Linked DNA regions of Homo sapiens: all the other regions are reported to be linked to region 4. The links are microRNA targets in miRTarBase. Many come from high-throughput screens and were not tested one by one. Region 4 holds a microRNA gene; each other region holds the end of a gene's coding sequence.

Evidence for each region. The annotated mature microRNA hsa-miR-7-5p reads UGGAAGACUAGUGAUUUUGUUGUU and lies in region 4 at 2,464-2,487, shown strand. An mRNA with a match to its seed (bases 2 to 7 or 8) in the 3' UTR can be bound and repressed. Matches are read on the target gene's strand: a 7mer-m8 pairs with bases 2 to 8, a 7mer-A1 pairs with bases 2 to 7 and ends in A, and an 8mer does both.
Region 1: miRTarBase lists MRAS as a target of hsa-miR-7-5p. Seed matches in the 3' UTR shown: 7mer-m8 at 671-677 and 7mer-A1 at 575-581.
Region 2: the mRNA of NCR3LG1 is a reported target of hsa-miR-7-5p. Seed matches in the 3' UTR shown: 7mer-A1 at 2,325-2,331.
Region 3: the mRNA of HOXC12 is a reported target of hsa-miR-7-5p. Seed matches in the 3' UTR shown: 7mer-m8 at 1,394-1,400.
Region 5: miRTarBase lists COXFA4 as a target of hsa-miR-7-5p. Seed matches in the 3' UTR shown: 8mer at 3,264-3,271.
Region 6: miRTarBase lists DTYMK as a target of hsa-miR-7-5p. Seed matches in the 3' UTR shown: 8mer at 3,472-3,479.
Region 7: miRTarBase lists ACOT4 as a target of hsa-miR-7-5p. The part of its 3' UTR that is shown has no 7-base or 8-base seed match.

Annotation. Positions count from the first base shown.
Region 1 is chr3:138,401,495-138,405,570 of GRCh38, reverse strand. MRAS (muscle RAS oncogene homolog) reads right to left here. Exons shown (of 6, transcript NM_001085049.3): 6 at 38-3,401. The coding sequence ends at 3,302. Among named protein-coding and RNA genes, the nearest start is that of ESYT3, 31 kb to the left of the region's middle.
Region 2 is chr11:17,372,091-17,376,090 of GRCh38, forward strand. It overlaps NCR3LG1 (natural killer cell cytotoxicity receptor 3 ligand 1), which reads left to right. Exons shown (of 5, transcript NM_001202439.3): 5 at 1-4,000. The coding sequence ends at 422. Among named protein-coding and RNA genes, the nearest start is that of KCNJ11, 15 kb to the right of the region's middle.
Region 3 is chr12:53,955,829-53,959,904 of GRCh38, reverse strand. It overlaps HOXC12 (homeobox C12), which reads right to left. Exons shown (of 2, transcript NM_173860.3): 2 at 949-3,577. The coding sequence ends at 3,339. LOC105369775 (a long non-coding RNA gene) reads left to right here and starts at 3,478. Exons shown (of 3, transcript XR_944977.2): 1 at 3,478-3,563; 2 at 3,938-4,014.
Region 4 is chr15:88,609,393-88,613,468 of GRCh38, forward strand. MIR7-2 (microRNA 7-2) reads left to right here and starts at 2,433; the gene lies at 2,433-2,542. MIR3529 (microRNA 3529) reads right to left here and starts at 2,532; the gene lies at 2,455-2,532. It also overlaps a transcript of AEN not described here. RefSeq lists an enhancer at 3,642-4,076.
Region 5 is chr7:10,930,328-10,934,403 of GRCh38, forward strand. COXFA4 (cytochrome c oxidase associated subunit FA4) reads right to left here. Exons shown (of 4, transcript NM_002489.4): 4 at 1,616-3,365. The coding sequence ends at 3,309. Among named protein-coding and RNA genes, the nearest start is that of COXFA4, 7.8 kb to the right of the region's middle.
Region 6 is chr2:241,672,302-241,676,365 of GRCh38, forward strand. DTYMK (deoxythymidylate kinase) reads right to left here. Exons shown (of 5, transcript NM_012145.4): 5 at 3,446-3,936. The coding sequence ends at 3,826. It overlaps ATG4B (autophagy related 4B cysteine peptidase), which reads left to right. Exons shown (of 13, transcript NM_013325.5): 13 at 1-1,556. Among named protein-coding and RNA genes, the nearest start is that of DTYMK, 12 kb to the right of the region's middle.
Region 7 is chr14:73,595,229-73,599,304 of GRCh38, forward strand. It overlaps ACOT4 (acyl-CoA thioesterase 4), which reads left to right. Exons shown (of 3, transcript NM_152331.4): 3 at 1-538. The coding sequence ends at 426. It also overlaps a transcript of HEATR4 not described here. Among named protein-coding and RNA genes, the nearest start is that of ACOT4, 5.4 kb to the left of the region's middle.

The sequences.
Region 1 (4,076 bases), not on the chromosome of region 4:
TTCAGGAATACTGGAGTAAAAGGAACTAAGACAGATACGTGTTTCTCTTCTTTATTAATCAGTCGAGAGATACAAAGACTTAATAAAAAGTTACACAGAAGGTTCAAACATCACTGAGATCTTCAGGCATCACTCGTTTCACGACAATGGCCACCTGTTAAGACTATGAAACAGAAGCTGGGCGCTCACAGGCGCACAATAATTCAAGTATCTTTCATTCCAAGTAAACCCGACATGGAATTTCAAACACAATGGGCTGCCAATGGAGGGAACCTGTCTGTGGCTCCAGATTTGCTGTAACATGTCTGAGGGGCCTTTGGGTTAAAGTTGCCACGTTAGTGGGTCATGTCTCCTGGAAAAGTGAGACAGGCCCCACGAGGCCAGCCAGGCATTTTCCACAGCAAGTGCCATGAGAAGGAGGTGGGCAAAGTCCTAAGAGAAACCATCCAGGTGTCCCGAGTGGCAAAGTGCACAGGTAGTAAGTGGCCATTGTCCCCAGCCGTGGGAGTGGAGAGGATGGCTAGGATTATCTCTGGAAAAAAAAGAGCAGCCCTCTAAGGAGGGTGTCAAACAGTGGAAGAAATCTGAGAGCACACAATGGCAAAGGCATGGGGTGAGGGCATTTCAGGAAGGCTGTGCTCCAGGGGATGTGAGGGTAGCACTATTCTCCGGAAGACCAACGGGAACATGAGGATGTCAAACAGCCAGAAGTCCCAGTTGGCTCCTCGGTCATGGTGTGGCGTGGCCAACCAGGTTTCCCAGTCTGACCCTGCTAGATGATAATGGAGGAGAAGATGGAGGGATGTCACGGGGCACACTCTACACTCTACTCTGGCCTATCTGGAAGCTACCTCAGTCATGAGGGCCCACTTCTACAAATGGGGCATTATTTACCCATTTCATTTATGGGGAAATGAGTTCATGGGAGATGAAAGCTTACCAGAGGCTCAACAGCAGAGGATACAGAAGACCAACCCTTAACTAGTCTCTCTCAGGCACCATGGAGTTCAACGTGGGCCAAGTGCAGGATGGATGAACAGATGCACTGTCCCTTCTGTCCCAACTGTGTGGTTGAAATCCCTATGTCTTCTCACCTTTATGGCCGAGGTCTCTGTTCTACATCAGCTGATCTGCTTCCAGTGAGACTATCAAACTCAGTGCTGTCGAGGAGTTGCAGCTCCACGGTGGGCATGGGGTATGCTCGTAGTGGTTGGTGCCCAGCAGGAGTTTTCTGGCTGTGGACACTGCCCTGTGTGCAGGGCTTCTTCTCCTACTCCGCCATGCTCTTGATTCTGAGCATCTCCATCCTTACTCCTTCCTACCTGCCTTTCCTCCGCCTCACCTCCAGTTTGCAGCTGCCATCAAACTGCACACAACAAACTGCTGCAGATACCACTTAGGGAAGCATAAGGATTGGGAAGAGCTTTGTCCTTTTAGTGTTTAAAATACCTCTTAACACTATAGGGTCTAAGGAAACTTTGAAGTGCCTCACCTGGAATGTTCTCTCTTATCCTTCCTTTTAGGAACAGAAAAAGGGGCAATTTAGACAAATAAGAAGTTTGATTTCCAACAAGCAAAAGTCTCAACTGTCTCCTTTTGTAGCAGAATCATTCTCCAGCTGGGCCCCTCAGTGCTGGTGATCTTGCCGAGGTAGGAACACAGCACATTTTCAGAACCCGGGTGTCTTGGCATCCAGTTGGGTGCTCACTTTCCTTGGGTTTCTTTCTCCAGAGTGGCCAGGCCACCTGCTGAGGATATTCTAGTTTGCATAGTGACCTGATTTGTAACATCTAGAAAATAAGGTCACCAGCTGTGCTGCCTTTTATTCTGACCTTTTCTTTGGTGCAGCGTTGTTCCTGTTGTCTCTCCACTCCCACCCCAGCTGGAAAAACTCCAGTCTTTGGCTCACACCAGCAGCACCTGAGGTGGGGGGGCGGGGGTGAGCATCATCAGGGAGCTGGGGAGACTGCCCCCTTGCAGAAGGTATATGAGAGCCACACATCAGCCCAGCCTTCCTTACTTCTCAGATCATTTTATAGTCAAGATTCAACAGGTCAATAAAAATTGCCAAAAAGGCAACCTAGTACTACTTTTACAAATACTGGAAGGGGTCTGCTCATTGACTAGGCTTATAGAGGTGGTAGTCAGTTGACTCCAAGGGAAGATGGCTTCAGGTCTTGGTGCTGTTTTAGTGATAACAGTATTGAATCATTTTTGGTTAAGATCCAGCATGAACTGGAGTTTTCTGGATGGTGTCCACATTAGGTTACTTTGACGTGTCAGTGTATTCGTATCAGAGAGGCACCAAGCAGCACAGCTGATGTGAAAACGCAGCAAGAGACAGATCTGAGAAACCCAGAGCCTCCTCAGACCCCTGGGGAGGGCAGAGAACTTAACCCATACTGTCTGAAAAACAAATGAACATGTTTGCAAAGCCAATCAGCTTACTTTAGTTTATACATTTCCAGGATAATGAAAACCCCTTTTAGAACTGACATGCTCATGACAGCCACTCCCCTCAGCAAAATACAATCTGTTTTCTAATATTTGCATCCCCAACCATAGGAAAATCCTCTGGGTAAATACCTCTCTCTTCTCTCATTTCTAGGCCATGTGTAGGGTCTCTTTCCCTCCCAGGTTTGACCCATGGCCTGAGGCCTCCAGCTACAGTTCCCATTACCTTCTGTCCTCTCAGACACTCTACTTTCAGATTGAGTTGAGTTTTGGCACTGATGGGAAAACTCGGTTAAAAAACAACAACAATATTCCAGATATGTTACCAGAGAGGTCTGCTGAACACTTGAAACTTCACCAGGCAGTGAGCCCAGACCCCTTTAATAAAATAATAATCACTAAAATAATTTAAAAATCTATAAAAGACATCCAAGCTCAGACATTGTGGATGGGGGGTAAGGGAAAGAAGCTTGTTCATGGCTTGTTTTGTACTTTGTATGTGGATAAACACTTCCACATCAAACCAACACTATGTAGTTACAATAAACAACACACCCACCGAGAGAGGGGGAGGAACCGGGTTGAATCAACACATGGGGGGGCCAGGGGCACTTGGATGCTGCTTCTGCTTACAGGTGGCTTCCTTGTCTCTTTGAGAGGTGGGAAAGCCCGTGCCCTCTGGGCAAAGCCAGACCCTGTCTGCTCCCTGCCCACCTGCCCTTCTCCCTTCCTGTACCAAGTCCTTGGGCCAAGGGTTGTGGTTAGAAATGGTTTCAGTGCAGTTAGGTGGGGAGGGGTCCCGAGGGCTGGCCAGGCCACCGTCACTGTGCCCAGGGCCTCAGGCCTGTCACAAGATCACACATTGCAGTTTGTGGGTGCCTGTGGCCCGGTCTCCCCGCCATTTGGTTTTCTTCTTCTTCTTCTGGCTTTTTTCCGGAATCTGTTGCCTTTTGAAACAATGAAGGACAGAAAGACAAAGTCAGAATGGGCTTTGCTTCTCCTCTGCCCCTCTCCTCCCTAGCCCCAGATCTGAGTCAGAGGAGGCCTGTTCTGGCGGGGTTAGTGGGTGAGGGGGATGGGGATGCCATCCCTCTCCCAGTGGCTGTCCTGGCCGCTGGAGGAGGGCCTGGCAGGATAGCTTCTCTTGAGGCAATGCAATGGGGGAGATGGGGGAGGGGATAACCTAAATCGCCCTACTGATGGGAATGACTGACATTATGTTGTAGCTACATTTACATAAATCATAAGCTACATCACGTTTTGTCTTATAGAGTGCTGGCCTCTATTCCTGTGTTTCATAGTTTAAATAAAATGATGGGTCAACTGAGCGTAAAAGCCATTTCATGTTTTCTGTTAACTTTTCCTATGTCTAAAACCTGACCTTGGCACTATAGGTTCACAACCAAGGCATCACCATAGGCTACCTGATGGCAGCACATCCTAATTGGAGGCAAAATGCCCAAGAGCAAATAGTTTCTTTCTTTCTTTTGTAAAGATGGCATTTCACTATGTTGCCCAGGCTGGTCTTGAACTCCTAGCCTCAAGCAATCCTCTTGCCTCCACCTCCACCTTTGCCTCTGAGTGCTGGGATTACAGGAATGAGCCACTACGCCTGGATGAGA
Region 2 (4,000 bases), not on the chromosome of region 4:
AAGAGCACCTCATATTCTTTTGCACTCGGGCATGGCCGTCTTACCAGCTGCAGGATGGGGAGGCTTGGCCTCCTGAGGGAAGTGTTAATATTAATACTATTCAACAACTAGATGTTTTCTGCAGACAGGAGGGCAAATGGTCCGAGGTTCCTTATGTGCAAGCCTTCTTTGCCTTGCGAGACAACCCAGATCTTTGTCAGTGTTGTAGAATTGACCCTGCTCTCCTAACAGTTACATCAGGCAAGTCCATAGATGATAATTCCACAAAGTCTGAGAAACAAACCCCTAGGGAACACTCGGATGCAGTTCCGGATGCCCCAATCCTTCCTGTCTCCCCTATCTGGGAACCTCCTCCAGCCACAACATCAACAACTCCAGTTCTATCCTCCCAACCCCCAACTTTACTGTTACCCCTACAGTAAATGCCTGATGGACCTGGTGCCACTAGGGTCCAAGTTCCCTTTTCATTACAGGACCTTGGGCAAATAAGAGGGGACCTGGGCAAGTTCTCTGATGACCTGATAGATATATAGAGGCTTTCCAAAACCTAACTCAGGTGTTTGACCTTACTTGGGGTGATGTTATGTTGCTCTTAAACTCTTAACTACTACAGAGAAACAGGTAGCCCTGCAGGCAGCAGAAAAATTCAGAGATGAACAACATGTCTTCTATAGCCACTCAATAAGGAAAGAAGGTGAGAAACAACCAGCATTCACATACCCAATAGGAAGCGAGGCAGTGCCCCTTGAACAACATAATTCGGACCCCAGTGGTACCTTAGATGAGTGGCAAAGAAAACATTTTCAAATGTGCTTATTAGAGGGCCTACAGAGGACCAGAGCCAAGCCTCTTAATTACCCCAAACTCTCCATGATAGATCAAAAACTAGATGAAAATCCCTCAGCCTTTTTGGAAAGGCTGAGAGAGGCTGTAGTGAAACACACTTCCTTGTCTCCTGTTAGGTATGTTTATACCTCACATAAATAATTCAATTGAGGGACAGCTAATTTTGAAAGACAAGTTTATTACTCAGACAGCCCCTGATATCAGAAGGAAGCTAGAGAAACAGGCCATGGGATTAGATAGCACCTTACAAAACCTCCTGAAGGTAGCCACCTCGGTCTTTTATAATAGGGACCAGGAGGAGGCCCAGGGGAAGGAGAGGAAACACAAGAAAAAGGCAGAGACTCTGGTGGCCACTTTGTATAAAACCCAGTATCCCCAAGGTACACCTGCTAGTTGCTACCAATGTGGCAAACTAGGGCACTTCAAAAGGGACTGCCCAGGCAGCAAGAAGAAGCCACCTCAACCCTGTCCAGTATACAATGGGGACCACTGGAAGGCAGACTGTCCTGGGAAGCATAGGTCACTGAGTCCAGAGCCAGTCTCACAAATGGTCCAGCAGGACTGATGGGTCCTGGGGCTCAACTCCCTGGCTCCAGTGGCTCAGACTGCTGTTACTACCCGGGAGCACCAGGTGATTCTGGAGTTCGAAGGGAGGAAGGTAGACTTCTTTCTGGACACTGGAGCCAGGCTTCTGTTTTCCTCTCCAATTCAGGCCTTCGTTCCTCCCATAGCACAACCATGATGGGCATCTCAGGAAAGACTTTAACTTGATATTTTTCTCAACCTATTAGTTGCAGTCAGAGGGACCTACTGTTTACACAGGCCTTTTTAGTCATGCCTGAAAGTCCCACTCCTTTATTAGATAGAGATATTCCAGCACGTATGGGGGCCACCATCCTTATGGCTCCAGGACAAACTCCGCCTCCCCTTAGTGGAAACCAGTATTAACCCAGAGGTTTGGGCAACTCAGGGAAGAAGTGGCCGGACTATAACCACTATACCAGTCTGGATCCACCTCAAGGATCCCACTTTTTTTCCTAACCAGAGACAATACCCTCTGAAGCCAGAAAGTAGAAAAGGGCTAGACGCCAGCATTGATAACCTAAAGGCACAAGGCCTCCTTAGGCCTTGCAGTAGCCCTTGAAACACCCCAATATTAGGGGTGCAAAAATCCAATGGGGAAGGGAGACTAGTTCAGGACCTCTGCCTTATTCATGAGGCTGTGATTACGATTCATCCAGTAGATCCCAGTCCCTATACTTTGCTAACTCAAATATCCAAGGGAACTAAATGGTTCACAGTTCTGGGCCTAAAGGATGCCTTTTTCTGTATACCTTTATACCCTGACTCCCAATACTTGTTTACCTTTGAAGACCCCTCCAATCAAACCACCCAGTTAACCTGGACTGTACTGCCTCAGGGATTTAGAGATAGCCCCCACCTATTTGGGCAAGTATTGTCAAGAGATCTCTTCGAATTCTTCCATTCTCAGGTTAAAGTTTTACAATATGTAGATGACATTCTCCTCTGTGCCCCAACTGAGGAAGTTTCTTGAGACGGCACTGAGGCTCTCCTTAATTTCCTAGCTGGAAAGGGATATAAGGCTTCAAAATCTAAGGCTCAGCTCTATCAGACTTTGGTAAAGTACCTAGGTCTGGTCTTGTCAGAAGGGAACAAGAGCACTAGGCGAGGAGAGGATTAATCCCATTTCCTCCCTTCCTCTCCCCAGAACCCTCAAGCAGCTGAGGGATGCTTGGGCATTACAGGTTTTTGTAGGTTATAGATACCCAGGTATGATAAAATAGGTTGCCCTTTATATCACCTTATAAAAGAAATTCAAGTGGCTAAAACTCACTTCCTGACCTGGGAACCTGAAGGTCAAAAGGCCATTAATCAGTTAAAACAAGCCTTGCTTAAAGCACCAGCCCCCAGTCTTTCTGTAGGGAAGTCCTTTAATCTTTATGTATCATAAAGGAAAGGAATGACCCTGGGAGTTTTAATTCAAGTTCAAGGCCCAGCTCAACAGCCAGTAGGTTACTTAAGTAGAGAGCTTGACTTGGAGGCTAAAGGATGGCCAGCTTGCCTCTGAGCAGTTACAGTAGTGGCCCTGCTAGTCCCAGAGGCCACCAAGTTAACCCTGGGGAATAACCTGTTTATGCCTCACATAAATAATGTGGCAGGCTTGCTGTCCTCTAAAGCGAGTCTCTGGCTAACAGACAGCTGCCTCCTCAAGTATCAGACTTTGCTGCTAGAGGAATCTGCAGTCCAGTTAAAAACCTGACCTTGCCTGATCCCAGACACTTTCCTCCCAGAGGAAACTGGAGAAACTGAACATAATTGTGAACAGACTGTAGTACAACCTATGCCGCTAGGGAGGATCTCAAAGAAATTCCCCTAGAAAATCCAGACTGGACCCACTTTATGGATGGGAGCTCTTTTGTAGGACAGGGAGTCTGAAAAGTGGGATATGCAGTAGTCACCCTAAATAACATTGAAAATGTGCCTCTCTCACCAGGCACACACACTCAATCAGTTGAGCTGATCCCTCTCACAAGAGCACTTGAACTAAGCAAAGGAAAGACAGCTAACATTTATACTGACTCCAAGTGTACCTTTCTAGTTCTCCTTGCCCATGCTGCCATCTGAAAGGAAAGGCACTTCCTCACCGCTAATGGGTCTTGCATTAAATACCATCAAGACATCAACAGGCTATTATCCTCAGTGTTCCTCCCATGAGAATTAGTGGTCAGACATTGCAGAGGGCATCAGAAGCGGGTAGATGAAATAGCGAAAGGAAACAGGCTAGCAGACCAAAGAGCTAAGTCAGCAGTAAGAAGGCCCCAAGGTCCCAAAACACTTGAGGCCCCTCTGATTTGGGAGGGCTACATAAGGGAAATAAAGCCTCAGTATTCCCCTACAGAGATAGAATGGGCCACCTCTCGAGGTATACTTTTCAACCCTCAGGATGGTTACAATCAGAAGATTGCAAAGTACGCTTGCCAGCCTCCAGCCAATGGAAGATTCTTAAAATCCTCCACTGAGCCTTTCACTTAGGAAAGCATAAGACATCAGTGCATCCAAAGATTGTTCTCAGGAGAAAATCTACTAAAAATGGTCAAATAGGTTGTTAATACTCGTGAAACCCTCTTAAAAA
Region 3 (4,076 bases), not on the chromosome of region 4:
AATGGTATTTGATCTAAATTCGCTAGTTTATCTAATTATAGGAATAAAAAAGGGGAAGGAAAGAGAGATTTCAGGGCAGGAGGTGTGGCTCAGAGTCTGGACTTGGTGGGGGCCCCTAGGATTCTGGTACAGGAGGGTGGAAGAGGAATTTGGAGGAGACTCCTTTGATAGGAGCTTTACAGTTAGAAAAGGTAACTGGAGAGAGGGGAGGGAAGAGGCAAAAGGGTAAGAAAGAGAGAGGGCATGTCTTACCAAAGGAAGGGGTAGGTGGAGGTGCAGAGGGTTCATGGGCACATCTGGACTCTACCACTGGCCTGGGCCTGGGCTTTCCTCTGGCATGGGCTAGAGGGAGTCGCTGGCTTCAAAAGGTGGAGCCTATTTTGCCAGTTCCAAGGGGTCTTTAGCCCCTTCTCAACATCTTGCAATACACAAGCGTCATCTCAGAGTGAAGCCATAGGATTAAGACCACACGGTTGAAGCTCTAGGCCCACCAACCCCCCTCCATCTCAGCCCCGGGATTATGGGTTACTCTTACTGCCCCAGTATCCAGCTCAGCTCACCAGTGCCCCTATCCTGGCTTCTATTTGTCAAGTTCCTGAAGCACAGACCTCCTTTTCTGAAGCTGGTTTCAACCTCCTTTAGGCTGTCCACATTATTTTTATGGCCCCATGACTTCTCAAAGCTCCCTCTCCTCCCCCAAGTCTGCCACCCCCCAATTTTCTCTCTGCTATAATTGCTTGGGACTGGAGATGGTAGCTCATCAACAGATCTTGGTTGCTTATGTATTTTTGTTGCCCCTGCAACCACTCTTCCTTCATTATTATTACACATTTATTATTTTTATTATTCACCTGAGCTGGAGAAAATAAAGTGGAGAACAGCTAAGAGGCTGGGACTCCCATTATTTTGGGGTAGAACTTTTGTTTTCAAAAAATCACATAATCATAATTCATGTTTTAATTATTATTATTATCAATATTAATATGATGAAGCAACTCTGTACAAGGACTATATAAAGGGAAAACGTGCTAAAGACAGACGTTGGAATAGGAGAATTACACTACAGAGAGCTGGGGAGGCAGCTAGGGGAAGGGCAACTATCCACAGGGACTACACTAGGTACCAGCGACAGACACAGAGAACAAGACACAGATTGACAGAGAACCTCACAGAAGTCAAGTTTAAAGCAAATGGAAAGAGAATATTGCATATCTTTGTCCCCTCACTCCTTTTAGAGTGTTCTGGTCCCTCTTCATTATTAGATTGGGAATCAGGTTAGTCTGGAGTGGTAGAGCTCAAATCCAGCACCCTAGAGCCCAGAGGTCACAGGAAGGGCTGCATAAAGGGGGTACAGTGGGTGACCAGTCAAGGTGGGGAGTGCTTCATGCCCAGGGGAAGACCACAGGAGACTGCAGACAGCTGGAATGGTGGTAATTTGGGGGAACTTGTACATGGGTGAAGCAAGTATGTGTGGATGGGGAATTGTCAGGTGTCAGATACCCAGCGGGGGATGGAGGCATGTGATTTTATCTCCATTCTGCTGGGCCATGTGGGGATTATGAGGCTGCCTGCTTGCGAGTGCACTAGGGAGAGTGGGGTGGGCCCAGTGCTGTGCTGGGCTCAGCTGTGTGTATGTGTTTGCCTTTGCCTCTGCCTGTACAGAAGCTGTGTGCTGGTGGGAGAGTAAAAAGCTCGGTGGATTGCCTTTGGAGAGTTTGTTAGGGGAGACTCTCCCCATATGGGAAACACTCCAAGCCAGCAGGCCAGTTTCACACTGTCCAGGCTGCAGTTAACTCCCATCAGTGCCCTGCTTCTCACCCCTCTTGCTCCTGGAAAGGGCCGGACAGCAGATGGGAGGCTGGGGGACTCTTGGGGAGAAGGATAAAAATGAAGTACAGAAAGGTTGATGGTTCTCTCACTGCTCCTCTCTTCCAAGCCAGCCCAGCGTCTACTGGGCTGGGGCTGGGGTCTGAAGGAGTCTGGATGAAAGTCCTTCCCACTCAGAGAAGCCATTCTCAGACCTCCAATGGGTTCTAGGGCTGTGCCCCTCCCTCTGCTCTGGTCCATGTGCTAGGCTGTGGAGGTTTGCAGGCCAGGAGGCGGAGGCAGCCCTTCTGAAGACAAAGGGCAATGTTGGGGGGCGGGCGAGGAAGAGAGAAGGGAGTTGGGTGGGGGGCTGGAGCGCCCCCCTCCTTCATTCTCACGGGCCTGGGAAACTGGGGCTGAGTGGGACCTCAATGGCTGGTAGCCCCTTTAAGGGTGAATTCTCCTCCCGCCTCGTAAATTACGCTGGTCCACCCTCTGGCCGGCCCGTGAGGCAGTGACCGTGAACGCCAGCGGGGAAGGGAGAATCAGAGGCCTCGGCTGTGGCTGTCAGAAATTCTCCCGGCCAATCAGTGTGGTGCTCCGTAGCCCCATCTACAGCCTCTTGCACTTTCTTTCTGGAGAGCCAGCTGGGGACCTCTGGGGTGGCTACTGAACCTGAGGCTGTGTCCCCTGGGCTCTCAGGTCCCTGCTTGCTGCATCAGGCCTGCAGCCACCGCAGGCAACGGAGGAGTGGATGGCAGCACACCTATGAACAGACATTCGCCCGGTGCGGGCAGCGGGATCAGGAGAGGGCTGGGGACCAGGACACTGTTCTGGTCCTAGAGGGAACATGAGGCTGATAGTCCTTGTCCACAGCCCGGCCAGCCAAATGCCCAAGCTTCTGCCCACTGGGTGTCCTGGGGGACCCAGACCCAAGCAGACTCTGGTTCTTGCTAATCATTTTCTCACAAACCACACTTCCTCCTTGGTTCCCCACTTCCTCCAGCCCTACCAGAGACACCTGACTCCCTCAGCTCTCTCCGCTGACCCTCCACCCTCCTCTCTCTTCCCAGCCTCTTCTAACCCCAGGAACTGTGAGGTTGAGGTGCCTTGGTTCCACTGGCCCTGCTCTTTGCTCCTGACGGCAAAGAGAATTAAGACCATGGAAGGGAAGTAGAGGAAGGGGACATCTGGGCCGCTGCTTCTCCAGATCCTCAGCGGAGGTGCAGTGCCCCAGTCCTGCCTCAAATAAACCAGCCCGCAGCACCTCAGCCTTCCTGCCCCTGCCAACCGCAGGCAGCTGCCGGCTTCTGCTCTCCCTGGCTAGGTTTCTTCCCTTCTCTCTGGGACCTGGCAGGGTGTTTTGGGTGTGTATGGGAGGGAACCACGAACAAAACAGACAAGAGGATATCCAGGGAGGGCCTGCCAGAGACGCCTGGCGTTCTAAGTGGGGACTGTGTTCTAGGCGGCGCCCTCTTTTGCTCTCTGCCAGGGACAGGCTCAGTCTGGGGCTGGCGCCCGTGTCCTGCACCTTAAAAGAAGGAGAGAGCTTGCTCCCTCAACAGAAGTCTTTTCTTTTTCATTCTCCGGTTCTGAAACCAGATCTTGACCTGCTGGTCACTAAGATTCAAGCGGTCTGAGAGTTCCCTCCGGCGCTGGCGTGTGATGAACTCGTTGACCAGAAACTCGCCCTCCAGCTCTGCCAGTTGCAACTTCGAATAGGGCTTGCGCTTCTTCCGAGAGCGGCTGTTGATCGGGTACCAGGGCGCGCCTGGGTGGAGATGAATGGCAGGGGTTGGCCAAAGGATCAAAGGGTGACCAGTCCAGTGCCCTTGGCCCTTCCCCAGACCCTTTCACCTTCGCCTCACAGCTGGACTCCAGGCCCTTTCTCTCCCTTCTCCTTGCCGCCAGTCATCTGAATCGTCTTTTCTACCCAGACCCACATCCCCACCAACTCCCCCACTTTCTTTACTCTTTTTTTTCCTTTCATTCTTTGCTCTTACCTCCTCAACCCTACCTCCTGCTGCACTATTCATGACCCTTCTAAGTCCCTATCCCCTCCTTTTTTCCCAAACCTCTCCCCAATTTTCTTCTTCCCTATTTCCTGGTCCCTTCCTCTCACATCCTTCAGGACTGGATCCCGGATCAGTTACAACAGATATGGGCGAATGGCAGAGTAAACGCATCCACTGGCATTTCTTTCGAAATGTAAGTAATGGGGTCTGTGGGAAGGTGGAGGGAGAGGCGCCTGGGAGAACTAGGGCCGGGCT
Region 4 (4,076 bases):
TCCAAATCAAAAGCTTCATATTCCCTAGCCCTCTTCACAAAAGATAAATTAAGGCTCAGTTAATTGTTACCATGGTAACATGGAGTGGCCACATTGAGGATCCCCATCATCCATTACTGTCATGAGGTAAAAGAGAGGAGGGGTTTGGGATCATTGTCATGGAGGAAACCATGGAAACAAGCGTTGCTAAGGGAACAGCTCTAAATTCAGAGGAAAGAAATTAGAAGTGGGGAGTGGAAGTTGGTGGGCTCAAGGGCAGGTCATTTTTTCAAAATATATTTCTTTGAGACTACAGCAGCCTCTTTTATTGCTTGCATCTTCTCCCAATTCAGATAGAGCCCAGAATTAAAGAATTTTGAAAACTAGGGCCACAATCAGTTCAAATTCATCTTCATTGGATCTGTAAGGAAAAAGCCAATGAAAATGGATTTACCCTGTTCACACCTCACAATCCTACTCTGTCTCTGAACTCTGCTTCTTTGCCAACCAGTTTCATTTATCACGGGCCAGGCTGTGCGCGAGGCACTTGGAAGAATAATGAGTGAGAGTCCCTGCTCTCATAGTGAGCTTCTAGCAGGGCAGTGGTTTGGGTGGTGGCTTTAGGGCCAGGGTTGCTCATGTAAGCTAGATCAGTCAGTCCTGCAAGCTGACATCCAGAGAGATGCTGTGGTTCTCTCCAAACTCTCTTTGTGGTGCATTTTAGCTTGTCTATTACTTCTCAAAGTTTATTTGCCAGGTCCCTAAGAAAGGCCTGTTTTTCCTAGAAATACCTAGGGTGCTAAGCTCTCCTATTAACCAAGGGGTTACCTTAGTTAGCATTGTTCTCTAATGGTACCCTCAGGTCCTTGTCTCTAAAACAATTCAAGGTTGAAGGACTAACCCTCCTCTCAACAGTGGCAAAGAGGCACGGGGCTATTTTTTTTTTTTTTTTGTAAAAGAAATTAAAGACCACACATCCATCTCTGTTTCTTGATAGATTAAAGGATGGGGAAAGGAGGTCTCAGTTTTCTACAGCTGGGAATTTCAGAGCCAGCACCTCACTGCGGGGTAGACTGAAGAGGGTCATAAAGAGCCTCTGGGGGAGGAACACCTCTCCCTTACATCTTCCACAAAAGAACTTCTTGGTTTTTCTCAGACCCATGGCAGAGATGTGCCCTGTCTCAGGCTGACAGCTGGAAGGGGCTGGGACTCAGAGCTAGGTATTGCCAGTCTTCTCCATGACTCCCCCCACTCCTCCTGCTCCTGAGCGTCTCCATCACCAGGCAAGCCCCCACCCCCATTCTGGATAGAGAGAATAAACCCAAGGATGGAAGGGTGGGCTAAAGAGGAAGTGCTCACAATTAAAAAGAGAAAGAATTAAAAGCAGCACCAATAGGGAAGGGTAATTATCCTTCAGTTGCTGCAGAAATACAATTAGGGCCATGCTCTCTGAGCCGCCAGGATATTGTGGCTTTTGCTAATTAAGGAGCGGATGTGTCCTGCCAGCGCAATTAGAGGCTGGCCCAGGCAGCAGGGGCTTTGCCTCTCCTCCACCAGTGCCACACTGCAAGGGAAATTAACCAGGGAGCCCAGCGCTGTGCCTGCAGGGAGGGGATGACTGGGCCAGGATTCCACCAGCCTCCTGTCCACAACCATTTCCCCTTTTCCTCTTCCTGCTCTGCTTACCCCAGCACCACCACTCTGACTTCATTCTGAAGCTTCCAGGGCTCAGTAACCACAGGAAGAATTTTCACCATGGGCCATGCCCATAGGCTTCCAGAAGGGGGAGGCACCAGTAGAGAGGGGTCACCATTTCCAAGCTCTAGTTTCTCTTCTGCATGGTGGTTCAATGCTTTATGATTAGTAAAGGAAAGAGAGAAATGAGCCACTTGCCTGCTTCTCTTTAAAAATAATTCCCCTGTTTGTAAAGGAAATATGCTCAAATTGGGTGCAGTGGCTCACGTCTATAATCCCAGCACTTTGAGAGGCTGAGGCAGGAGGATCACTTGAGCCCAGGAGTTCAAGACCAGCCTGGGCAATATACTGAGACCTTGTCTTTACTAAAAAAAAAAAAAAAAAAAAAAAAATTAGCTGTAGTCTCAGCTACTAGGGAGGCTGAGGTGGAAGAATCACTTGAACACTCGAGTCTGGAAGGTTGAAGCTGGAGTGAGCTGTGATTGCACCACTGCACTACAGCCTGGGTGACAGAGCAAGACCCTGTCTCACCAAAACAAAACAAAACAACTGTGTCCATTATAGAAAGTAGAACACTCCAGAAAAAAGGGAAAAGTAAGAAAAAATAATTTCTCCAGGGAATTCTGAGGTGAGGAGAGGTGTTCAAAGATGAACTTAGTAATAGGAGCGGAGACAACGCCTCGCCTGAAGGAGCATCCAGACCGCTGACCTGGTGGCGAGGGGAGGGGGGTGGTCCTCGAACGCCTTGCAGAACTGGCCTGGATACAGAGTGGACCGGCTGGCCCCATCTGGAAGACTAGTGATTTTGTTGTTGTCTTACTGCGCTCAACAACAAATCCCAGTCTACCTAATGGTGCCAGCCATCGCAGCGGGGTGCAGGAAATGGGGGCAGCCCCCCTTTTTGGCTATCCTTCCACGTGTTCTTTTTTGTATCTTTTGTGTTTCCTAGAAAACATCTCAGGTCACCACCCTAAACACCCATCGGCAGACTCTTCCAGAAACATGGACAAACTATGGTGTGAGCAGGGAAGTGGGGCAGGGTCTCTGTTTTCAGGGAGCAGTGGACTGCTTCCATACCACTACCTGAAGGGCAGGGGGAGAAAAACCCTCCTTAATTACTAATTCCCCCAACAATCACTTTGGGGCACCTATAATGGAGGCACCTTGTGACTCCACATCCTGGGGCTCAGGGCCTCATTGTCTGTGGCCCGACAGCCACAGTGTATGCGGGCACCGAGAGGTATGCACTGGAGACCGAGGTTCCCGGATGTTCAGTGTACCTGGCAGCAGGGGGGACACACCTGACCTCGGAGCTTGTCTGGTGCCTGCTCCACAGCTGAGGGAGTGGACTTGTGTGTATGGAATTTCTTGGTCCCAGTACCTGCCTCTGTGCTGCTACATCCAGAGGTGTGGCCAAGGGAAAAAAGCCCAGTGCTTGGGGACCATCCCCCACTGTGGCAGGAATACAATTAGAATTAGTGATCAGAAAAAGCATTTCCCAGCCTTTTATTTATTTATTTATTTATTTATTTATTTATTTATTTATTTATTTTTGAGACAGAGTCTCACTCTGTCCCAGGCTGGAGTGCAGTGGTACAGTCCTGACTCACTGCAACCTCCACCTCCTGGGTTCAAGTGATTCTTGTGCCTCAGCCTCCCGACTAGCTGGGATTACAGGTGAATGCCACCAACTCAGCTAATTTTTTGTATTTTTGGTAGAGAGAGGGGTTTGCTATGTTGGTCAGGCTGGTCTCGAACTCGTGACGTCAGGGGATCTGCCCACCTCGGTCTCCCAAAGTGCTGGGAGTATAGGCATCAGCCACCTTGCCTGGCCTCCCAGCCTTTCTGCCTGGGATCCCTCTGCCTGGGGGGTACCTTGCCCTAAGGTGAGCACCAAGTTACAGTGATGACACTTTCAGTGGAGATTAATTTTCAAGCAACAAATCCAAATGCCCTCCCTATTCCTAAGTATATTCCCACCCTCCTCCATCCATACAGCAGAGGAGACTAAAGCATATTACAAACTAAAGTTGGGGGTTGGGGATCGTACTCATTTAGGGAATGCTAAAAATGCAACCATTAGCTGAGCTCATTCTACCTCTTCCGGTTGCTAGCTGTGTGACCTCTGGCAAGGCACTTGACCTCTCTGAACCAAGTCAGCCCTTCACTTCTACCCAGAGACTTTGGCTGCCTCTGCTTCTGCTGCTCCCTATCCTACAAACTGGCTCTCTTCTTCTGCACTTCCAGTCTTAAATTTCCCTTTACTCCTAACCCTGCCTGAAGCCAGTGGGAAGCCAGTCCTATTAGAAATCTCATTTACACTTCAGAAGTCTGCAAATTGGTGTCACTCAGCAGGTATCTGTCCTTCACAGCGGGAGAGAAGCCCAGATTGGGCAGGAAGG
Region 5 (4,076 bases), not on the chromosome of region 4:
GGGCATGAGCAAGAGACTGACTAGAAAAGCCAGTGATGTAGGTTAACAAAAACAGTATGGTGTTCTAGGGACCCAGGAAGAGTGTTTCAAGGAGCTGTATCAACTGTTAGGTCAAAGTGATACTGATGATCAACTTGAATTCACAAACAGAGGTCACTGATAAAACCTTAACAGAAGCGTTTTTAGTGGAGTGGTGAGGATAAAATCTGACCAGAGTTGGGTAATAAACTTGAAAGAAGTAAAATTTAGTATAATTATTTTTAGCTTTTTTGGGGGGGAACTGCTCTAGTTTGAATGTATGTCCCCCGCAAACCTCATGAAATTTAATCCCCACTGGGCACAGAGGCATGTCTGTAATCCCAGCTACTAGGAAGGCTCAACGGGGAGGATTACTTGAGGCCAGGAGGCTGCAGTGCACTGTTTGTGCCTTTGAATAGCCACTGCACTACAGCCTGGGCAACATAGCAGGACTCAGTGTCTAAAAGCGGATTAAAAAAAAAGGAAAAAGAAATTTGATCCCTAATGTTGGAGGTGGTGCTTAATGGGAGGTGTTTGGGTAATAAAACAGATTCCTCATGAATGGTTTCATGTAGTCCTCTCAGTAATGAGTGAGTTCTCACTCTATTTGCTCCCAAAAGAGCTGGTCATTAAAAAGAACCTACCACTTCCCCCTTCTCTCTTGCTTCTTGTCTATGTGATCTCTGCACACACCAGCTACCCTTCGCCTTCTATCATGAGTGGAAGCAGCCTGAGGCTTTCACCAGATGTCCAATCTTCCAGCCAACAGAATCACGAGCAAAATAACCCTTTTTTTAATGTATAAATTACGCAGTTTCAGGTATTCATTTATAGCAACAGAGTAAGACAAGTACCTACTGGGAAGCATATATAAATTATGAAAACTGCAAATTTTTAAATACATGTAAATACTACCCAAGGATATCTGTATTTAAATGCAGCTTTGCCTGCAGACTTCATTAACATGAGAAACAAAGGCAGCAGTCTGTTTTCTGAATGAAGCATAGTAGGGCCAGGAGTAGTGACTCTCGCCTGTAATCCCAACACTTGGAGAGGCCAAGGCAGGCGGATCGCCTGTGGTCGGCAGTTTGAGACCAGCCTGGCCAACATGGCGAAACTGTCTACCAAAAATACAAAAATTAGCCAGGCATTGTGGTGGGCACCTGTAATCCCAGCTATTCAGGAGGCTGAGGCAGAATAGCTTGAACTCAGGAGGCAGAGGTTGCAGTGAGCAGTGAGCCAAGATCACGCCACGGCACTCCAGCCTGGGTGACAGAACAAGACTCAGTCTCAAAAAAAAAAAAAAAAAAAAAAAAAAAAGCACAAGCACAATTCTAAACATTCAAAGAAAAAAAGTGTGTTATCTTTCGTGGCAGCATTGGTATCTGATGCATTTGTAAATGACAATTTCTTTAGATTGCCATTGAAGTTTCTTAAATAGCAGTAATAGTTTCTTCATTAAGACATATCCTATTTCATGCCAAACTTCATATGTATTCTTACATTGCAAAGTCCAAGGATAGACACAAAGTAGAAAGATACTACTCAAAGAATTTTTAAGGATGCATAAAATGATCCTCAATTCTAGAAAACGTTATTACTAATTTCTTAATGTAGCATTTATTTGGAGTTGCTTAATGTTTTTCAATTACATGACACACTGTTTGTTTACACAATTTTAAACTTTGAGGTAATTTGTGCCAAAGGATCTAGAGTAATTCTCAACAGAGGTAGGAATGAAGCAATTTTGCCCACCAATGGACATTTGGTAATGTCTCCATTCTTCTCATAGCCTGTGGGAATTGGAGGGAAAGAGTGCTTTTTGTCTGTAGTGGCAGAGCCCAAGTTAGCTACTAAACAAGCTAAAGCGCATGGGATGGTCTGCTAAACCAAACTGTCTTTCAGAAATAGTCAACAGTGGCAAGGTTGAGAAACCCTGTTCTTAGAGGTTCAAATTATACCTGACACATAGGAGGTAAAAGCATGGAGTCTGGTAACTGAAAACACTCTACACACTCTAAATTCAAAACTACATGGGTGTAAATATCCACCATTTGACTAACAGAATGAATTCAAGTAATTCAACTCGTTTAACAATTTCAAAATTTTTGAGATAATCCACGTAATTCAAATACTTAGTTCAGTTCCTGACATTTAAAATGTGCTTCTACTACCCTGTAAACATTTAATTGTATACTTACGTATGAAAATCCAAAATTAATGTCACTGAATTCCTCAAGTTTCTATGATGTGATGACTTACACACACCTATGTGAAAACTTGCTATATTCCCCATCTTAAAATTATGAATATACTTCCTGGCCTTTGAAAACCTGCACCATGGCTAAGCGCAATGGCTCACGCCTGTAATCCCAGCACCCTGGGAGGCTGAGGAGAATGGATCGCTTGAGCTCAAGAGTTTGAGACCAGCCTGGGCAACATGGCAAAACCCTGTCTCTAAAAAAAATTACAAAAATTAACTGGGCATGGTGGCACATACCTGTAGTCCCGGCTACTTAGGGGCTGAGGCAGGAGGATCACTTAAGCCCGGGAGGTAGAGGCTGCAGTGATCCATGTTTGTACCACTGCACTCCAGCCTGGGTGACAGAGACTATCTCAAAAAAAAAAAAAAGAAAAAAGAAAAGAAAACCTGCACCCTGCACCAAGACTCAGCAGCCAAAATTCTCAAGATCTCTTGACTACTAGCACCATGGTTAGCACTGATAAACTCAGATTTCAACTTCAATCCTAGGACCAAAGCAACTTATAACCTTGAAAATCACAACAAAGAGATGCCAAGTAAAAACCATTGTTAAAAACTGCACACACTTCAACAGCCAGTAAGAGAAACTCAAAGGTTTCCATTTTGCCAGTGTCAGATGCTGGAGTATCCTTCCCAATTTACTTTTGTATAATTTCCAGTTCCAGTTGTTATGTATGCTCTAGTGAAGTTACCAACAGTCTATACACAAAATGGAAGTGTTTTACTAAAGCAGCTTAAAGTCGTATTTTCAAACTACAGAAATTCAAGAAATTCTTTAAATTCTAATAGTTAATTTCCTATACTCTAAAGTTCAGAGCATACTTTCAGCATAAAAAAGTGACACATATCAAGTTTCAGTTATTTATTGATTTAATCATTGTAATCTCCAATAGAGATTACAATAGAGATCTCCAACATGATTTCATGCATTTAGAGGAGAAATATTTCCTGGTTAAGTGGAAAATTGTGCGGATGTGGCTTCTGGAAGACCTTCATTCTAAAGCAGCGTTATAGTGAAACATTTCATTTAGAAATCTGGACGTTCCTTCTTCAGCTTGCTGTAATCCACATTCACTGAGTAGAACTTGGAACAGAAAAAAAGATATTTTAAGTAATCTCAAATACACAGAGACGGTACAAAGGTTTTAGAATTCTTTGTATTTGGTTTTCTACAGTAACAATTACAGATATGAATTTTTAAAAGAATATTTAACAACATAAAATCATTCACAGAAAAATACTGTACCTAAAATTCCAGCCTTCAATGATAGTTTTGGCAAGGTAAAAATATTCAATTTATTTCAGAAGAGCAGTATTATAGTACAGTCTACTACTTGGAACCTATAAGGAAAATTCTTTTATTTCAAAGTGAATAATTAAGAATTCCTTCTGATACATACTTCCAATTCGGTAAGTTTTTGCCTTAACTCTACTAAGTACGTGGAAGAATCGCCAACAGAATAGAGGATTAACAAGAATTACCTTCCCTACTTGCTGAATGAACTGCTGTAATTTAGAGGGAGAGATCCTGCAACAAAAAGAGGCTAGTAATATAAGGTACTGCTTTGTTTTGTGGTTTACATAACTTCTAAGATATTTTCTCTCTCTCACTAATTTCCTAATCCAGACTATATTCAATATCAAACTGACACTTCAACTCTGGTAATGGCTTTTAAATAATACGGTATTTTTGCTGTTTACATTTCCAACATTTCTTTATAATCAATTAATATTAATTTTTAGAAATAAATCTTACTGTGATTGCTTTAAAAAAAAAAAAAAAAAACTCCCTCTC
Region 6 (4,064 bases), not on the chromosome of region 4:
GGGCTCCTGGTGCCGCTGCGTTTCATCCATCCCGCCCGCTCGCCTGCCGAGGGCTGCGCCCCGTGCTGCCTCCCCCCAGAGGGCCACCCGCTGTGCTCGTGGACTGAGGCTGCGCTGCCCGGGAGGCCTTACTGCTTGGTGTCAGACTGCCCAGCTCAGAGTGCCCGTCAGGGCCTGTGCATCCGCACGCGGAGCCGTCTGTTAGGAGCTTCCAGAGTGTTCTCTCGACACTGCCAGCCCCGTGTTAGCACCTGGGCCTCAGTCCCACTTGCTCCCAGGCGCCGGTTCTGTGGTTGGTTTGGAATTAAAGTCCTGTTTGAAGTTGTCAGACACAGACATGAATTTCTGGGCGCTCCCTGAGTCAGAGTCTCAGAAGACCTGTGCAGGCTGGCGTGAGAGGAGCGGCAGCCACACTGCGGCCCCACGCCCAAGGACTGGGCTGCTCTCGAGGGGGGCGCGCCCACCGCTGTGTCCTCTCTGCCCAGCCTGGCTTACCAAGGGCTACCTCAGTGGGAGATGAGGTTGGAGGAACGAAGGCGAGGTTCCTCCTTGCTTTGGGGAGAAAAGTATTCAGGAAGTGGGTGTGTGGGAAACCTGAAGATGGCGTGCACAGGACACAGCGTGGGCGGCCTGGGCAGAAGGGCGGCTGGCTGTCCTGGAGCTGCTGCTGGAGCCTGCCCTCAGAGTGTCCCTTTCCAGTGCTGTGGCATTCTGTGGCAGCTTCCCCAGGTGTGGTGACGGGGGGGGGGCGGGGCCTCCACCTGTGACAGCCAGGCTTGAGGGTGGACGGCGTGCCTCTCCCAGGAGCCTTCCCCATGTCCTTGCCTTGCTGAGAATTGCCCTCCCATGCCGCTGAGGTGTTAGGTGGTTTAGGGCCAAAAGGGGAAAACCACTTGAGTCTTGTGGTGTGTGGTGGGCAGACACCACAGGGTGGCATCACCTGGTGGCATTTCCAGAACCTCAGCCCCGATTCCAGCACCCACCACCGCCTGACCCTGTGTAACCTGCTGTCCCGGGTCCCAGAGTGCACTCTGCCCCGCTGCTCTGCTGCCTGTCCTGGGAAAGTATCTTTGCCCCACTAGGAAATGTAAACAGGAGGGCTTGGGGAGCGTGGGCACTTTTCTCATGAGCAGCTACTGCGGCGTTGGCAGGACTCGCTGCTGCTGCTGCTGCTTGTGTAGGTCGGGGAGCCAGAGATCCCCGAGGACGCGCGCCGGACAGTCGGCACTGACCGGCCCACCTGGTAGCAGAGGACACCCCCAGCCCCCCAAGCATTGAAGACATAGTGTATTTCCTCGTATCCTTTCTCCCTTGGGTGTAGTTGGGGTGGGGAAGCAGGGAAGGCTGGTGCGATCTCCATTCCTTGGGCTCCACGTCCGAGTTCATGGTGCGCCGCTGTGCTGGGAGCTGCAGTGGTAATGTGTGGGACACCTTGACCAAAGGGGAGCTTTGTCTCGTGTGTTTTGAAAAAGGCTTAATGAAGAGAATGTTGTTCATTCTTAGTAGTATAGTTTGCAATTCTTAATGGCAAATAATAAGTTTCAGTAGAAAACAAACCTTGTGTCTATTTTTTCCTTAAGTTCTAATTGAATGTGAGTTCCAGAAAAAAAATAAGTGAATGTTTCAGCCCGTTCACACGTAAAGGATGTGGCTGCCTGCGTGGCGGGCTGTGGGGCCCTGAGCAGGTGTGTCCCCAGCCCTGGCAGGGGGCCTGTCCTGCCTGCAGCCTGGCTCTCTACCAGCCGTGGCATCAGCCACCTCATACAACCCTAGAAGGAAAAAGTGCAAGGAAAATAGGATTTTAGGAAAGTAAAATGGCGGTTCCCATCTTCAGCAGGAGGAAGTCACAGGAAGTGCCTGGAGTTGCAGGGTTTGCCTCGATTTGAATCATAGCAAAGCCTTCCCCAAGTGCGCAGTGACTGTCCTGGCCTGTGGGAGGCCATGCCTGGGGCACAGCAGGGGGCTTGGTGAGGACATTGCTCACTCTGGCCAGTGCATCCCTGTGGGCAGCCCTGGTATAGGTGTGAAGGGCCCAAAGCCAGATCGGAGGGGGCCCTGCTGGGTCCCCGGTGAGGTGGCTGAGGACTTGTGGCCTCTCCGATGCTCGTATTCGCTTCTTGTGGCTGCTCTAAAAGATGATCACATTCAGTGCCTGGAACAGCACAGCCTCTTCCAGACCCGGAGGGCAGACAGCCATATCGTGCTGTGGGCTCTAGGGGAGAACGTTGCTGTGCCTTTCTAGCTTCTGGATGCCAGAAACTGCTTGGCTCATGGCTCTTTCCTCCAACCACACAGCCAGCAACATGGCATCTCTCCAGCTTTTGCTGTTGGCATCTCATTTCCTGACTCGGACCGCCTGCCTCCCTGTTATGCGGACCCGTGATGGGCCAGGCATGGTGGCGCCAGCCTGTAATCCCAGCACTTTGGGAGGCTAAGGTGGATCACTTGAGCCCAGGAAAGAGAGGCTGCAGTGAGTCAAGATTGCACCACTGCACTCCAGCCTGGATGACAGAGTGAGACCCAGTCTTAAGACAACAAAAAAAGGCCCCTGTGATGACACTGGGCCCACCTGGATAGTCCAGGAAAGTCTCATCTGAAGGTTCCTCACCCAGGCCCATCCCACAGCCCCTGGCAATGCTTACCCAAGAGTGAAATCCTTTTGTTTTGCCTGGGTTTGTCTCTTGGCCACAGAAGGGTGCTGAGACCCACAGCTGCTGCCCCCACAGATGGGGGACCCTGCCTGCCTTCTACTCCAGCACACTGTATGCTGCTGTCTATGCGGAGTGTGCTCTGTGGGACAGATTCTGCCAGGAGTGTCAAATCATTCCTTCTAAGTGTCACTTAAAAGGGGATGCAATGGGCTCGGCATGGTGGCTCATGCCTGTACTCCCAGCACTTTGGGGAGGCCAAGGCAGGTAGATCACTTGAGCCCAGGAGTTTAAGACAAGCCTGGCTGGCAACATAGCGAAATCCTGTCTCCACAAAAAAATTACCCAGGCACAGTGAAGGCCTGTAGGCCTAGCTACTCAGGAGGCTGAAGTAGGAGGATCACCTGAGCCCAGGAGGTCAAGGCTGCAGTGAGCCACGATCGTGCCACTGCACTCCAGCCTGGGCGACAGTGAGACCCTGTTTCCAAAAAAATAAAAAATAAAGGATAGGATGAGAAGTTAAGCTCCAGGGTTGCAATGAAAATAGCAGAGTTAACTTAGGTGAGTTCAGGACGTAAGCTGTGATGACACTCGGATATAGCCTGGCTGGACCCAGCGAGCCCAGGGCATGGCTGCAACTGTTCAGACCCACAGTGGGACTCCCTCAACTAGGCAGGAACCAGGGTCCAGGAAGGCCCTACTGGGCCCAATGAAGGCTCTTCTCTCCTGGGATGGAGGTTCCCATTCAAAGCCAGCTCCGTCCTCAGTCTAAGAAAAGTGAAGCGTTCCACAAACAATTTTCAGGTCGTTTTTTACTAGTGTCTGGAAGACATTTAGGAGAATTCCAACTGATTACCATTTACAGTGATCACAATGAAACTGCTCAGAGTTATCACTGAACTTCAGTAAGAAAATACAACAGAGTGCCATCAGGACAGGGGAGAGGGCAGGAGACTGCTCCATCGCTCTGCTCATGTCCACACTGCCAAGGTCCCCACCACGGGGGTCCCCAGTGCACCCCAGCTCCGGGGCAGAAGAGGCAGCCTGCAGATCTCTGCTGCCGGGAAAGAGCTCCTGAAGTTGTGGGGTCTGGACTCTGCTGGGGACGGGGCCTTCCGCGAGTCTCCCACCTCTCGGGGGACTGCAGGGAGAGGCGTCTCCAGTGGGCAGCCTTGGGTCACTTCCATAGCTCCCCCAGCGGCTTCTCTGTGGCAGTGCGGATGGCGTCCTCAGAGAGCACGCGGATGTCCTCATGGACAGCTTCGATGCTTTTGGAAGCATCCACCATCTGTTCCCACCGGGGTTTCAGGAGAAAAAGAGGCTCATCAGCACGTTCCAGGCTGGTCACGGGAGCCCACGCCTGTAATCCCAGCACTTTGGGAGGCCCACGAGGGAGGACTGCTTGTACCCAGGAGT
Region 7 (4,076 bases), not on the chromosome of region 4:
AGAATCAAGGTAGCTTTCTCAGGCCTCGTGGACATTGTGGATATAAGGAATGCTCTCGTAGGAGGGTACAAGAACCCCAGCATGATTCCAATAGAGAAGGCCCAGGGGCCCATCCTGCTCATTGTTGGTCAGGATGACCATAACTGGAGAAGTGAGTTGTATGCCCAAACAGTCTCTGAACGGTTACAGGCCCATGGAAAGGAAAAACCCCAGATCATCTGTTACCCTGGGACTGGGCATTACATCGAGCCTCCTTACTTCCCCCTGTGCCCAGCTTCCCTTCACAGATTACTGAACAAACATGTTATATGGGGTGGGGAGCCCAGGGCTCATTCTAAGGCCCAGGAAGATGCCTGGAAGCAAATTCTAGCCTTCTTCTGCAAACACCTGGGAGGTACCCAGAAAACAGCTGTCCCTAAATTGTAATGCATTTGTCTGTTGTTGACATGAGAGATTCAAGATCAGATTCTAGTGTTCAGTAACCCTATGTGAATCAGATGTCTCCTGGATAACATTAAAGCCATGTCTTTGTCATTAATGGTGTATTTTACGTAACTTTGTTGAATAAGCTTTGTCGTTAGTTTTACTAATGTAACTTGCTTGTTGTAGAAGATTAAGAGGCATATGACACATATAAGTGAAAAACATTCCCACCAGTTAACATTTGTGTTTCCTTCTAGATTTTTTTAGTTAATGTTTTGAGTCACAGGTGAGCTTTAAAGCTGGTGACTTTTTCCATCACTATGAAAGAATGGTCACTTAATGTTTGCTGTTCAACCATCAGTAGCAGGGTAGAATTTTCTTTGGCCAGAAACATACAGAGGGGTGTTAATATGAGGAAAGGCAGCTGACCTTTTCATTATAAACGTGAGAGAAGACTCTTTTGACAGGAGGAGATGAGACCTGTCTCTAGAATAGTTAAGTCTGTACTCTCTTCCAAGGGTGAATTACTACGATCTATTTTCCCTCTCACTTCCTCTCTAAGAGCAGACCCTGGGGCCGAGTACAGTGGCTCACACCTGTAATCCCAGTACTTTGGGAAGTCAAGGGGGGCATATTGCTTGAGCTCAGGATTTCATGACCAGCTTAGGCAACATGGCAAAACCCAATCCCTACAAAAATTAGCCAAACATGGTACACACCTGTAGTCCCAGCTACTCGAGACTCAGATGGGACGATTGCTTGAGCCCGGGAGGTCAAGATTGGTGCAGTGAGCCGTGATTGCACCACTGCACTCCAGCCCAGGTAACACAGCGAGACCCCGTTTCAAAAGAAAAAAAAAGAATAGAACTTGGAAAATCGTACTGTGGTAACCCTAGAGGAATCACTCCTTTGTCTCCTTGACATTGACACTACATAGCATTTATTATTATTATTATTATTATTTTTTGAGACAGAGTCACTCTGTTGCCCAGGCTGGAGTGCAGTGGCATGATCTCAGCTCACTGCAACCTCTGCCTCCTGGGTTCAAGCGATTCTCCTGCCTCAGCCTCCCGAGTAGCTGGGATTACAGGCATGTGCCACCATGCCCGGCTAATTTTTGTATTTTTAGTAGAGACAGGGTTTCACTATGTTGGCCAGGCTGGTCTTGAACTCCTGATGTCAAGTGATCCACCTGCCTCGGTCTCCCAAATTGCTGGGATTACAGGCATGAGCCACCGCGCCCAGCTTACATAGCATTTATTAATATAAGCGTATTTGAAAAGATAATGGCTGAGAAATTTCCAAAACTGATGTCAAAGACATCAAGCCACATATTCAAGAAGAATTGTAAATGCCAGGCAGAATAAATACAAAGAAAAACTACGCTTATCACAGTAAAACTGTTTATGGTAATTTTATTTTATTTATTTATTTATTTATTTATTTTTTTGAGATAGAGTCTGGCTCTGTCACCCAGGCTGGAGTGCAATGGCGCAATCTCAGCTCACTGCAAGCTCCGCCTCCCAGGTTCATGCCATTCTCCCTGCCTCAGCCTCCCAAGTAGCTGGGACTACAGGTGCCCGCCACCACGCCTGGCTAATTTTTTGTATTTTTAGTAGAGACAGGGTTTCGCCATGTTAGCCAGGATGGTCTCGATCTCCTGACCTCGTGATCCACCCGCCTCGGCCTCCCAAAGTGCTGGGATTACAGGCGTGAGCCACCATGCCCGGCCATTATTTATTTATTTATTTGAGACAGAGTCTTGCTGTGTTGGCCAGGCTGGGGTGCAGTGGCACGATCTCAGCTCACTGCAACCTCTGTCTCCCGGGTTCAAGTGATCCTCCTGCCTCAGCCTCCCAAGTAGCTCAGACTATAGGCATGTGCCAGCACGCCCAGCTAATTTTTGTATTTCTTTTTCTTTTTTTTTCTTTTTTCTTTTCTTTTTTTTTTTTTTTTTTTTGAGAAGGAGTCTTGCTCTGTAGCCCAGGCTGGAGTGCAATAGCACAATCTCGGCTCACCACAACCTCTGCCTCCCAGGTTCAAGCAATTCTTCTGCCTCAGCCTCTCGAGTAGCTGGGACTACAGGTACCTGCCACCATGCCTGGCTAATTTTTGTATTTTTAGTAGAGACAGGGTTTTACCATATTGGCCAGGCTGGTCTCAAATCCCTGACCTTGTGATCCATCTGCCTCGGCTTCCCAAAGTGCTGGGATTACAGGCATTAGCCACCGCGCCTGGCCTTTTATTTCTTTTGTAGAGATGGGGTTTCGCCATATTGGCCAGGCTGGTCTTTAACTCCTGACCTCAAGTGATCCACCTGCCTCAGCCTCCCAAAGTACTGGGATTACAGGTGTGAGCCACTGCACCAGGCTTGTTTATGGTAATTTTAAAACATAGCTGTAAATTCATTGGCATTTCCCTCATCAAAAGATGGGAGACCTGCCGGGTGCAGTGGCTCATGCCTGTAATCCCAGCACTTTGGGAGGCCGAGGTGGGCGGATCATGAGGTCAGGAGATCAAGACCATCCTGGTTAACATGGTGAAACCCCGTCTCTACTAAAAATACAAAAAAAAAAAAAAAAAAAAAACATAGCCGGGTGTGGTGGCAGGCGCCTGTAGTCCCAGCTACTTGGGAGGCCGAGGCAGGAGAATGGTGTGAACCCGGGAGGCAGAACTTGCAGTGAGCCGAGATCATGCCACTGCACTCCAGCCTGGGCGACAGAGCAAGACTCCGTCTCAAAAAAAAAAAAAAAAGAGAGAGATGGGAGACCTATGTCCCCTTCCTTCAAATCTGGATGAACTTGTGACTGTTTCAGTCACTAGAGTAGAGCGGCAGTGACTTTGCAGGCGAGGTCATAGAACGCCGTGAGGATTCTACCGTGTTTGCCAGGAACACCTGCCTTTGGAGCTTGAGCCACTATGTAAGAAGTTTGGGACAGGCGCTGTGGCTCATGCCTGTAATCCCAGCACTTTGAGAGGCTGAGGCAGGCAGATCACCTGAGGTCTAGAGTTTGAGACCAGCCTGATCAACATGGTGAAACCCCATCTCTACTAAAAATACAAAAATTAGGCCAGGCATTGTGGCTTACACCTGTAATCCCAGCACTTCGAGAGGCCAAAGCAGGCGGATCACCTGAGGTCGGGAGTTCGAGACCAGCCTAACCAACATGGTGAAACCCCATCTCTACTAAAAATACAAAAAAGTAGCCAGGTGTGGTGTTGGGTGCCTGTAATCTCAGCTACTCAGGAGGCTGAGGCAGGAGAATCTCCCAAACCTGAGAGGCAGAGGTTGCAATGAGTCAAGATCACACCACTGCACTCCAGCCTGGGCAACACAGCGAGACTGTCTCAAAAAAAAAACAAAAAGAAGTTTGACTACCTTGAGGATGTGATGCTGTGATGCTGTGATGAAGCTTAAAATACATGTATAAGCCAACCACAGGCACTCCTGTGACAGTCCCAACTGTGGTCAGCGTCTCAGTTATCTCAGCCCAAGTGCCAGACATGTGAGTGAAAAACACCTCCAGATCATCCTAGCCCCCAGCCATTTAAATCTCGGTGGAGACTTCACATAACCTCCACTGAGCAGTGATGTCCCTCTCAAGCCCTGTCCAAACTGCAGATTTGTGAGCAAAATAGATTGTTTTTGTTTT